2 separate regions of the Homo sapiens genome follow, and region 2 is linked to region 1. Evidence: fine-mapped expression QTL. A gene starts in region 1. The other region holds a variant in brackets. All regions are shown on one strand. Distances are between the middles of the regions. Region 1 holds the start of KCTD15 (potassium channel tetramerization domain containing 15). Region 2 has its middle 31 kb from the start of KCTD15.

Evidence for each region. PIP is the estimated chance that this variant, and not a neighbour inherited with it, causes the effect.
Region 2: its variant is the best candidate, but not a certain one, in a credible set for the expression of KCTD15 in whole blood (INTERVAL, PIP 0.74).

What each region holds. Positions count from the first base shown.
Region 1 is chr19:33,794,268-33,799,632 of GRCh38, forward strand. KCTD15 (potassium channel tetramerization domain containing 15) reads left to right here and starts at 2,603. Exons shown (of 7, transcript NM_001129994.2): 1 at 2,603-2,720; 2 at 4,401-4,499. RefSeq lists an enhancer at 27-536 and a silencer at 1,182-1,301.
Region 2 is chr19:33,825,292-33,830,656 of GRCh38, forward strand. No RefSeq gene overlaps it. Among named protein-coding and RNA genes, the nearest start is that of KCTD15, 31 kb to the left of the region's middle. The variant G/A (reference allele first, on the strand shown) is at 3,277.

The sequences.
Region 1 (5,365 bases):
AGTTGTGAATAAATAAAAATCCATTTATACACCCGTCCTTGACATGTACCTTGCAAATCTTAGAAACTTCATCTAGTGGGAAAATAAATGTTAAATCATGAATACCCATACTAATCACATTGCCATGTGGCTTCCTAAAACAGTTTCGCTTATACCAATCTTTCAAGTATTAATTTATATGTATATATTCACCCAGATTGAACACGAAACAAAGGCGTTACCGCAGCCACCTAGGATGAGGGACAAAAGAGGTGTGAGGGGCGCTGGGGGCCACAGGAGCCATGACAAGCGGATTTTCAGTGAGTCCCTCATCCTCCAACACAAGCCTGCTCCACCTTCCCTCATTCCACCCTCCACAAAGGCCTGGGGCGGGGGAGGACGTTTCTGTCCATGAAGTTGGGGGCACCCACACACACAACCTCGTCCGATTGTGATTCTAGCCAGCATTTAAGGGTGGATACAGGAGATCAAAGTATTTGAATACTTGCTTCACTTTCTATTTGTGTCTGGTCCCTCAATGCTGAGTGGGATGTGCATTGATGGAGGGCTTTGCTGTTCCTATGTCGTGCTTGGGACAGTCGGCCACAAAGCTGGGCTGACCTCTCGGGCCGGGCCGGGCCTGGCCAGCGTGCCGAACGCGCAGAGAGCGCGCTGCTGAGCCGAAGCTGGGAGCTGGAAGCCCGGAGGTACCGGGGCGTAGGGAGCAGAGTGGGCAGCCCTTGGGCCTCGCGGGAGCCCCTCCCAACCCCTGCACAGATCCCTGACCTACTTCCAGGGCTTCTTTCTGTTCCAGGAGCAGCTCAAAATCCATAAATTAAGGAAATTAACTGATGGGGCCTGCGGCATCTTTGTAAGCTATTTAAATCTATAAATTTACAACATCTTCTGCATATATCAAATAATTGAACTAACTGCAGGGATGTAACTTTAATGAGAAAATTTCCCCCTTTTTCCTGTAGTTCGAACTCGAAAATAAATAAATAAATAAAACCTTCCCTTAGGAGGAAAGTTTCGGCTGATTCCCGCGTAAAGAAGTTACGGAAGCGCTGTCTGGACGCTCTCTCCACGCGCGCGAGGTCCTCTAGTAGAGGGAGAAAGCCCCCCCCACTTCACCTTCCTCCCACTGGCACCCCGAGTCCCCCTCACCCCAGCTCCAGGCCGACCCCGAGCGCCCCCCACCCCGGGAGTGCGGCCGCTAGGGGGCGTCCAGGCCCGGCCGGAGCCGGCGGTCGGGACCCAGGCGCCGTTCCGGCCCGTGCGCACCCGCCCCGCGGTCCCAGCCGGTCTCCGGCCCGGGCGTCCCTGGAGCCAGGCGGGGGCGCAGTGCCGGCCAGTCGCGCGCTCCGTTTCCTAGGAGCCGGGAAATGGTCGCCGAGGAGGAGGAGGAGGCACGGGCGGGGCGCAAAGGAAACAGGAGGAAGAGGAAGGGGAGGAGGAGTGGGAGTGGGAGAAAAGGAGGAAGGGGCGGCCGAAGCGGAGACTGGGGAGGGGCGTCCGGGGCGCGGACCTCGGCCGCGGGGAGTCTTGGCTGCCGCCGTCTCCATCGCGCCGCGCGCGTAAAGGAAATGGCGCGTCTAGCCGCGAGCGGTCGGCCCGGTGCCCCAGCGCGTCCCTCCCCCGCGGCGGCCGACCGCGTGTCCGCAGACGTCACGGGAGAGGGGCAGCGGGGCAGAGACCCTGGGAGGGCGGCCAGGGAGCGGGGGAGGGGCGGCCTGGCCCCCGGCTCCGCTCCAGCCCCGACCGACTGGCAGCCCAGTTTCTTCCCAAGTCCCGCCCCCAGCCCCGGGCGCCGCGGCGGCGGCTGCTCTCCTCTTTGTAACCGAGGAGTCAAGAAATGTGAGAAACGTGCCCTGTGTTACTTATTTGGGAGCCGAAAATTTATGCCCAGCTGAAAGCGCCCGGGGAAATATTACATCAGATGAAATGACAATGATTAAAATCAGCCTCTCCCCCGCCCCCTCCCCGAGCCCGGAGGAGGCCCGGGCGCCGCGTGGCCGGCCGGCGGGGGGCGGGGGGCTGGGCCGCGGAGGGCGCTGGGGCCTGGGCGCACCGCTCCCGGGAGGGTCCTGGCCGCGGCCCCGGCGGGAAGGCGCGGGCTTCGGGAGAGGCGGGTGGGGATCGCCCGGCGAAAGGAGGGGAAACGGCGCGTTTTTGTCGCCAGGCGCGGGCGCGCGGAGCTAATTGCGACTCTAATCCTCTGCCCCGCGGCGCAGCCGAGCCCCGAGCCAGGAGTCGCCGCGCGCGCCCGTTCGCGCTGGGTAATTTGGGGCCGGATCGCTGCCCTTTACGTCCGGGCTGGGCCGCGGCGAGGCGCTGGCTAGGGGCTGGAGTGGGGGGCTGGTTTTCTCTCCAGCAATCGAGGGAGGCCGCCGGAGAGAGAGGAGGGAGGAGAGGAGGTGGGAGCGGCGGGAGGGCAGCCGGAGAGCGGCGCGAGGAGGAGGCGGCGGCGGCGGAGGCGGCGGCCGCGAAGAGGGGAGGAGGCGAGGGGAGGGTGGGGAGGGGAGGCCCCGGCGCGCCGCGCCGCGAGGGGCCGCGTGAAGCGGGGGCCGGGGCGGGAGGGGTGGGTGGGGGGAGGGTTGGGGGCGAGAGAGAAAGTAACTCCAGGACGAGACCGGAGCGACCCGCGCAGCGAGCATAGGCGGCGAAGCTGCGCCCGGCGCCCGAGACCGGCAGCTGCGTGGGGCGGGGGCTGCGCCCGAGCCCGATCTGCCGGCTCCGAGGTAAGCTCAGCGCGGGCGGCCACCGCTCAGAGCCGCGCAACCCTGCCCCGAAGTGGCTGCGATACCGAGAAAGTCGCCCGGCCAGGGTCTGGACCTGGGCGGGGGCGGCCGCTTTGTCCCTCTGCTGGGCGGCGGGGGCTGGCGGCGCGGGGGTGCCCAGCACAAAGGCCTGGTGCAAGAGTGGGGTTGCCCACGTGGGCTGGTCCTGGCCGCGGGTGGACCCTCCCCACGCGGGCGGTCTCGGAGCTTCCTGCCGCGCGGTGTGTGTGTGTGTGTGTGTGTGTGTGTGTGTGTGTGCGCGCGCGCGCGCGCGCGCTTGTGGAGGTCCCCGCACTCTGGCCCCTGTTCTGGGCCGAGCGCCCTGCAGAGCTGGCGAGTTTCCGGGGTCAGAAACGGGCTCACGCAACTGGGGCTTCGGGATGCACAAGTCCCGGCTTGGCGCCCAAAATCAGAGAAAGTCTCCAGTGGGACAGATGTGCGTCCTCTGACGCCCACCCCACGAGTCCGAAACCTGGCAGGAGGGGCTGTCGCGCTGGTGGTGGTCCCGGGCGCGCAGGGTTTGGGGCTGGGAGAGGGGCCGCGATGGGAGGGATCGCCGCCTGCAGATCCGGTTCCCCGCTGCCCGCCCGCACCCCCTGACCTGGACGCGCGCACCCGGCACACACTCGCAAACACACCCGGGGGCGGACCCCCGCCTCTGCAGCGCCTTTCTGTCTTCCGGCGGCCCCCACCCGCGACTGCAGAAAGATAAGCTTCAAGTTTTCGCTCCGTATCTCAAATGTGCATGAAGGAATTTAACTGCACGAGTGAATAACAGCATTAGTTTCAATTAATTTTTTTTTAATCCCGGCAACAATAAACTTTGAGAACAAAAGCGCTTTTACGTCCTTAATTAGGCGAGCTTCCCATCTGTGGTCTCCAAGTGTCTGCCTCTTGATTTAACTTTGTCCCCGCCCCGCCTCCGCGGCAACCCCTCCCAGCCCAGCCCCGCGCTTCGGGTGCCGCGGCCACCCCGCCCCGCGGCGCCTCCAGCCTTGGCCCAAGCCCTCTCCCGTCGCCCCTAAGTTCACACCGGCCGGCTGGCTCCGCGGCGGAGGCGGGAGGGGGGGGGTGGGGAGGCTGGCGCGCACCAGGTGGCCCGCCTGCCTCTCCGGGGCCACCCCTGGGACAATTGTGCAGGCCCCCAGGACTTTCGCCCCGGGCCAGCGCCCTGAGTGCGGAGCCGAGGGGAGCTCGAGAGGCGCCTTCTGTTTACCTTTTATGGTTAAAATAACAGCTTAGCAAAGAAGCGACTTCAGAAGAAGCGATTTAGTGAAATCGTCTCAAGCTGCCGCAGCTCAGCCAGTTTAATCACCCCCAGAGAGCCGAACAACTGCGAGCGCAATGGGACACAAAATCATTTTGTGTGTAAATGAGCGTGGCATTCTGCTCACTTCTCTCTGCTCGGGCGGGCGGGGCTCGGCGGCGGGCGGGCAGGGACCCGGGTCTCCCGCCGCAGCTGGAGAAGCGGGTCACTACCGGGCCAGTTTGGAAACCTGTGGGCCCTCCCGACCGCTATCGCTGAGGCCCCTGCAACAGGCGGGCCAGGGCGCACTGGGGCTGGGTGCTGGGTTTGATGCTGGTGCTGGTGGAATGAACTTGTATCTCTCACTGCACCCACTTTTGTGCTTCTGACTTAAGCAGTGGTCTCGGAAAGAGGGTCGTGGTCCCGCACGGATGCGCTTGTTGGGAGAAACCTTGGAGATTCACGGCAAGGCGTAAAGCCTGGGGCTTCCAACGGTAAGTTTCTGGCTTGCCATGAACATCAGGTTGTTCTTGGGAGGGAAAAGGGGCTAAGAACAGAGTGGAGCGGCTTCTGTGATGGAGGCTTGGTGTTCACGTCACTTTGGAATAGTGTCCTGGTATTGGGGAAAACATCTTGCAGTCCGCTTTGATAGAATTTCAGCCAGAATTCCTTCCTGTTCAGTTTATCCTCAGCGCGTCTTCCCTTCTGACTCCTCCCCCAGCAGAGCCTCCTAGGGCAGGATAATCCATTCCTGAGGTCTGTTTTGGTTCTCAGAACTCCTTGAGCTAAGTGACCTGGTTTTGTTTTTTTAAGCTTGTAGAACTCAGGAATGCCAAAAGCAGTGGATTCTGAGTCCACAGGCCCCAGTGAGGGTATATATTAAACATCACTGTCTGCCCATTGCAACCTCCCACCCCAGTTTTATGTCAGGAAACTTGCCCGGGCACTCAGGGAGAGCAACCTTGCTTACATTTGCAGGATTTGATTCTGGTTGGATTAAAATTGGATATTGAATTTCAAGGCACAAATTTTGATCCCAGAGTTTTAATGGGAAAAAGCAATCCCATGGGTCCCAAGAATTTCAAGTGGTTTCTCTCTTAAAGGTTAAACCTTCGAGAGACGTCCAGGGTAGGTTTGTGGAAGCCAGTGTCTGTGGATGTGTGAAGGGGGGTGACTATTCACGTGCAAATCTCCTCTTTCCTCCCTTTTGAGACAGCTGTAAATCAGTGAACGGGGCTGCAGAATTCTGCCCCTCCTGCATAGGGCCTGCAAAGCGCCCCTGGGTGTGGCTTCCAGGGACTGAGGGACAATCTTATTTCAGGTGACTACGGCACAGAGGAGAGTTACTGAGTGCCTCTGG
Region 2 (5,365 bases), 31 kb after region 1:
TTAGTAGAGATGGGGTTTCACCATGTTGGCCAGGCTGGTCTCGAACTCCTGACTTCAGGTGATCCACCCACCTCAGCCTCCCAAAGTGCTGGGATTACAGATGTGAGCCACTGTGCCCAGCCATATACATATGCATGGTATATATATATATATGCATGGTATATATATATATATATATATATATATGCATGGTATATATATAAATATATATATATATATATGCATGGTATATATATATATGCATGGTATATATATAAATATATATATATATATGCATGGTATATATATATATGCATGGTATATATATATATATATATATATATATATATCATGCATATATATACACATACATACACATACACCATATATATGAGTAATGTCTTGGCCCCACGTGAGACATTGTGAGGAACCTGCCGTTGGTGCGTCCAGCCTGAACACGTGCTGTTTTATTACGCTTTGTGGGCGTGCTTATGTGGGGATCTGGGTGAGTGTGGAAAAGACATATTGCTGCTGATGGGAGCTGGGAAGTCTTTGATTCCTTGGAGACAGTGAATAAACTGTGTGTTGTGTGCTCATGTTTTAGCTCCAAACCATTACATGAAGTCAACTGTGGAATTTTCTACTTGTGACATCAGGGTGGCACCCAAAAAGTTTCAGATTTTGAAGCATTTTGGATTTCAGATTTTCAGTTTAGGGATGCTCAGCCAATAGTACTTTATTAATTGGCGAGTGCTGTCTGTTTTCACCAGGAAGGCCTCGCTGAGCCGCATGTAAAATTTAAATAAAGCCCCAAAGAAGGTAAGGCAGGAGGCTGGGCGGGATGGCTCACGCCTGTAATCCGGCACTTTGGGAGGCCGAGGTAAGTAAATCACCTGAGGTCAGGAGTTCAAGACCAGCCTGACCAATATGGTGAAAACCTATCTCTACTAAAAATACAAAAATTAGCTGGGCGTGGTGGCCTGCGCCTGTCGTCCCAGCTACTTAGGAGGCTGAGACAGGAGAATTGCTTGAACCTGTGAGGCAGAGGTTGCAGTGAGCCAAGATGGCACCACTGCACTCCAGCCTGGGCGACAGAGCGAGAGTCCATCACAAAACAAAATAAAATAAAAATACAAAAATTAGCCAGGCATGGTGGCTTGCACCTGTAGTCCCAGCTGCTCGGGAGGCTGAGGCAGGAGAATCATTTGAGCCCCGGAGGCAGAGGTTGCAGTGAGCCAAGATGGCGTCACTGCACTCCAGCCTGGGTGACTGAGCGAGACTCCATCCCTGCCCCCGGCAAAAAAGAAGAAGGTAAGGCGGGAGAAATGCAGATTTCTGGCAGAAGAGCATTTGGGGCAAAGGGGCTGCAAGGCAAAGGCCTCGAGGTAGGAGTGTGCATGATGTGTCTCAGAAACGCAAGAAGGAGGTTATGTGGCTGGAGTGTGAGGGGCTGGGGAGTTGCAGAAGGTGAGGTCGCAGGGGTGCCTGGGGTAGGAGGGAAGTCAGATCATGTAGGGTCTTTGAAAAACGTGTTGCCTGTACTCCACCCATTTCCCCTTAGCACTTGCCTTCAGGTGCACACAGACCCTATGGCTTCCTACTGCTCCTGTAGCTCTCTGCCTGAGGGTCTTTGTTGGTGAGGAGTGCAACAGCTCCTCATGCGTGGGGCAGGCCAGGAAGTCAATGCCCCCTTAGCTCTCTACTATTGTGGAGATGGCAAATAAACACCCAGGTGTCTTGCCTTTTGCGTCTGACAATGGGGAGGTCTGCTCTAGGCTCTCTCAGGGGCCTCCAGTGGGGTTAGAGTGCAACGGCATGATCTTGGCTCACTGCAACCCCTGCCTCCCAGGTATAAATGAGTCTCCTGCCTCAGCCTCCCAAGTAGCTGGGATTACAGGCATGCGCCACCATGTCTGGCTAATTTCTGTATTTTTAGTAAAGATGGGGTTTCACCATGTTGGCCAGGCTGGTCCCAAACTCCTGACCTCAGGTGATCCGTCTGCCTCGGCCTCCCAAAGTGCTGGGATTAGAGGCGTGAGCTACCATGCCCTGCCTCATTTGTTACTTTTTAAGGGCCAGGGTCTTGCTCTGTTGCCCAGGCTGGGGTGCAGTGGTAGATCATAGCACACTGTAAAGCTAAACTCCTGGCCTCAAGCGATCCTCCCACCTCAGCTTCCCTAGCAGCTAGAACTGCAGGCACATGCCACAATGCCTGGGTAATTTTTTATATTTATTTATTTATTTATTTATTTATTTATTTATTTATTTATTTATTGAGACCTAGTCTTGCTCTGTTGCCCAGGCTAGAATACAGTGGCACGATCTCAGCTCACTGCAACCTCCACCTCCCGGGTTCAAACGATTCTCGTGTCTCAGCTTCTCAAGTAGCTGGGATTACAGATGTGCACCACCACACCCGGCTAATTTTTGTATTTTTAGTAGAGATGGAGTTTTGCCATCTCTACTCATTGACCAGGCTCATCTCAAACTCCTGACCTCAAGTGATCTGTCAGCCTCTGCCTCCCAAAGTGCTGGGATTACAGGCATGAGCCATTGTGCCTGGCCAATTTTTATTTTTGCAGAGGTGGAGGTGCCTTTCTATGTTGCCCAGGCTGGTCTCAAACTCCTGGCCTCAAGTGGTCCTCCCACTTCAGCCTCCCAAAGCGCTGGGATTACAGGCATGAGCTGCCGTGCCCAGACAAGTAGCTCCCTTACTAGCCTTCCCTCTCTTGGCTTCCTTCCTTGCCCTGTCTTACTTCCCTCTCTCTCTTCCTATATACCAGGAATCACCTCCCAGTGAATGCTGCGTTCAAGGTCTTGTCTCGGCATCAGCTTCTGGAGCATCCCAATCTAAAACACTGCCATGAACCGTGATTGGGACTTGGGCTTCTATTTTTATTTTTATTTTGAGACGGAGTCTCGCTCTGTCTCCCAGGCTGGAGTGCAGTGGCATGATCTCGGCTCACTGCAACCTCTGCCTCCCGGGTTCAACTGATTCTCCTGCCTCAGCCTCCCCAGTAGCTGGGACTACAGGCACATGCCAGCATGCCTGGCTAATTACTTGTATTTTTAGTAGAGATGGAGTTTCACCGTGTTAGCCAGGATGGTCTGGAACTCCTGGCCTCCCAAAGCGCTGGGATTACAGGCGTGAGCCACTGCGCCAGGCCAGGACTTGGGCTTTTCCTGAGCTTGAGAGCAGTGGCCACTGCCCAGTGGTGAGCAGAGGAGGGAAATAGACTGAAGGGGGCTGGGGAGGAGCAGGGAAACCAGTTGGATGCGACCATGATCCTTCAGAGC[G/A]AGCTGAAGGTGGCCTGGAGCAGGGTGAGAGACGTGGGAGTAGGGAGAGGCAGTTCCATCCTGGGTACACTTGGAAGGAGGAGCCAACATAACTTGATGCCTGCTTAGATGTGAAATGTGGGAGGCAGTGAGGTGTCTAGGGTGGCTACAAGGGGGTTGGCCTGAGCAAAGGAAGGATGGAGTTGCCTTTTGCTGGGATGAGAAGATTGATGGTGTTGGGCAGATGGGGCAGGCTGTTGAGATGCCTGTTAAGCACAGGACTGACAAAGCTGGGCTGGGAGACAGGCAGGTACTTGGGAACTCAGGAGGGAGTCCAGGCTGCAGGTGTACGTTGGAGGGTCCTCACAAGTTAGACAGCATTCAAAGCCAAGACTGGATAAGGTCTCCAAGGCAGTAAGTGTCAAAAGAGAAGAGACTGGCTGGGCGCGGTGGCTCACGCCTATAATCCCAGCACTTTGGGAGGATGAGGCGGGCAGATGTCTTGAGGTCAGGAGTTCGAGACCAGCCTGACCAACATGGTGAAACCCTGTCTCTACTAAAAATGCAAAAATTAGCTTGCCATGGTGGCGGGCACCTGTAATCCCAGCTACGTAAGAGGCTGAGGCAGGAGAATCTCTTGAACCTAGGAGGCGGAGGCTGCAGTGAGCCGAGATCGTACCAGTGCACTCCAGCCTGAGCAGCACAGCAAGACTCCATCTCAAAACACACACACACACACACACACACACACACACATTAAAAAAAAAAAAAAAGAAGAGGTTTCCAGGATGAGCCCCGGGCACTCGGTGTTTGGAAGCTGGGAGAGGGAAGAAGGGTGCAGCAGAGGGTTTGGAGAAGGAGTGACCGCAGGGTGGGAGGAAAGAGAGAACAGGAGAGAAATGGAAGCAAGAATGGACCACACTTGATGGAAAATTATCTGATAAAATATTTTTAATTAATTTTGGTGTATTTTGAAACAATCACAAATTTACCAAAAAAATTTGCAAGGACAGTACAAAACTGTTTTGTTTGGTTTTACCATGAACAAAAGTATTTATTTAGAATGAGAAAAGTCACAACATAATACAAATTTAAAATACCACAAAATGGCCAGGCATGGTGGCTCATGCCTGTAATCCCAGCACTTTGGGAGGCCAAGGCAGGAGGATTGTTGAGCCCAGGAGTTCAAGACCAGCCTGGGCAACGTAGCAAAATTTAGCTAGAAATGGTGGTGCATGCCTGTAGTCCCAGCTATTCTGGAGGCCAAGTAGGGAAGATCCCTTGAGCCCAGAAGGTCAAGGCTGCAGTGAATTGTTGATCATGCCACTGCACTCTAGCCTAGGTGACACAGCAGGACTCTAGCTCTAAAAAATAAAATAATAAAATACTATGAACATCACAAAATTCAGAACAATACCATATTAGTATTTCATTCCTATATTATTAATCAACTGGCTGATGTAACACGCTTCCTACATAATTTAGCTGTCTACCCTGATCACTTCTTCAAATAGCAACAATAATATATGTTTTTATAGAGAGAATAGAAAAGCAATTTTGCATTTCCTCTAGAGTGATTGATCCAAAATTGTGATTTTTTATTATCAATATTGGAGGAAGCAAAACTTCTTTTTTTTTTCTTTTTTTGAGATGGAGTCTCGCTCTGTCACCCATGCTGGTCTCAAACTCCTGGGCTCAAGCAAGCCTCCTGCCTTGGCCTCCTAAAGTGCTAAGACTACAGGCGTGAGCCACTGCACCCAGCCCAATACTATTTTTTGATGAACCATTTCATATTGTTACTGACATGATGCCCCTTCACCCCCAAAATAGCTTGTGTTTTCTACAAACAAGGATATTCCCCTCCGTAACCACATACAGTCATCAATACCAGGAAACCACACAACTGCATTACTAACACCTGCTCTTCCGACCCATACAGATTTTACCAATTGCCCTGGTATCATCCTTAGTAGCAAAGCATCCAGCCCAGGATCAACACATTTAGCAGTCACATCTCTTCAGTTCCTGGGTCTTTCCCTGACTTTCATGACCTTGACACTTTTGATGATTACAAGCCACTTATTTTGTAGAATGTCCCTCAATTTGGGCT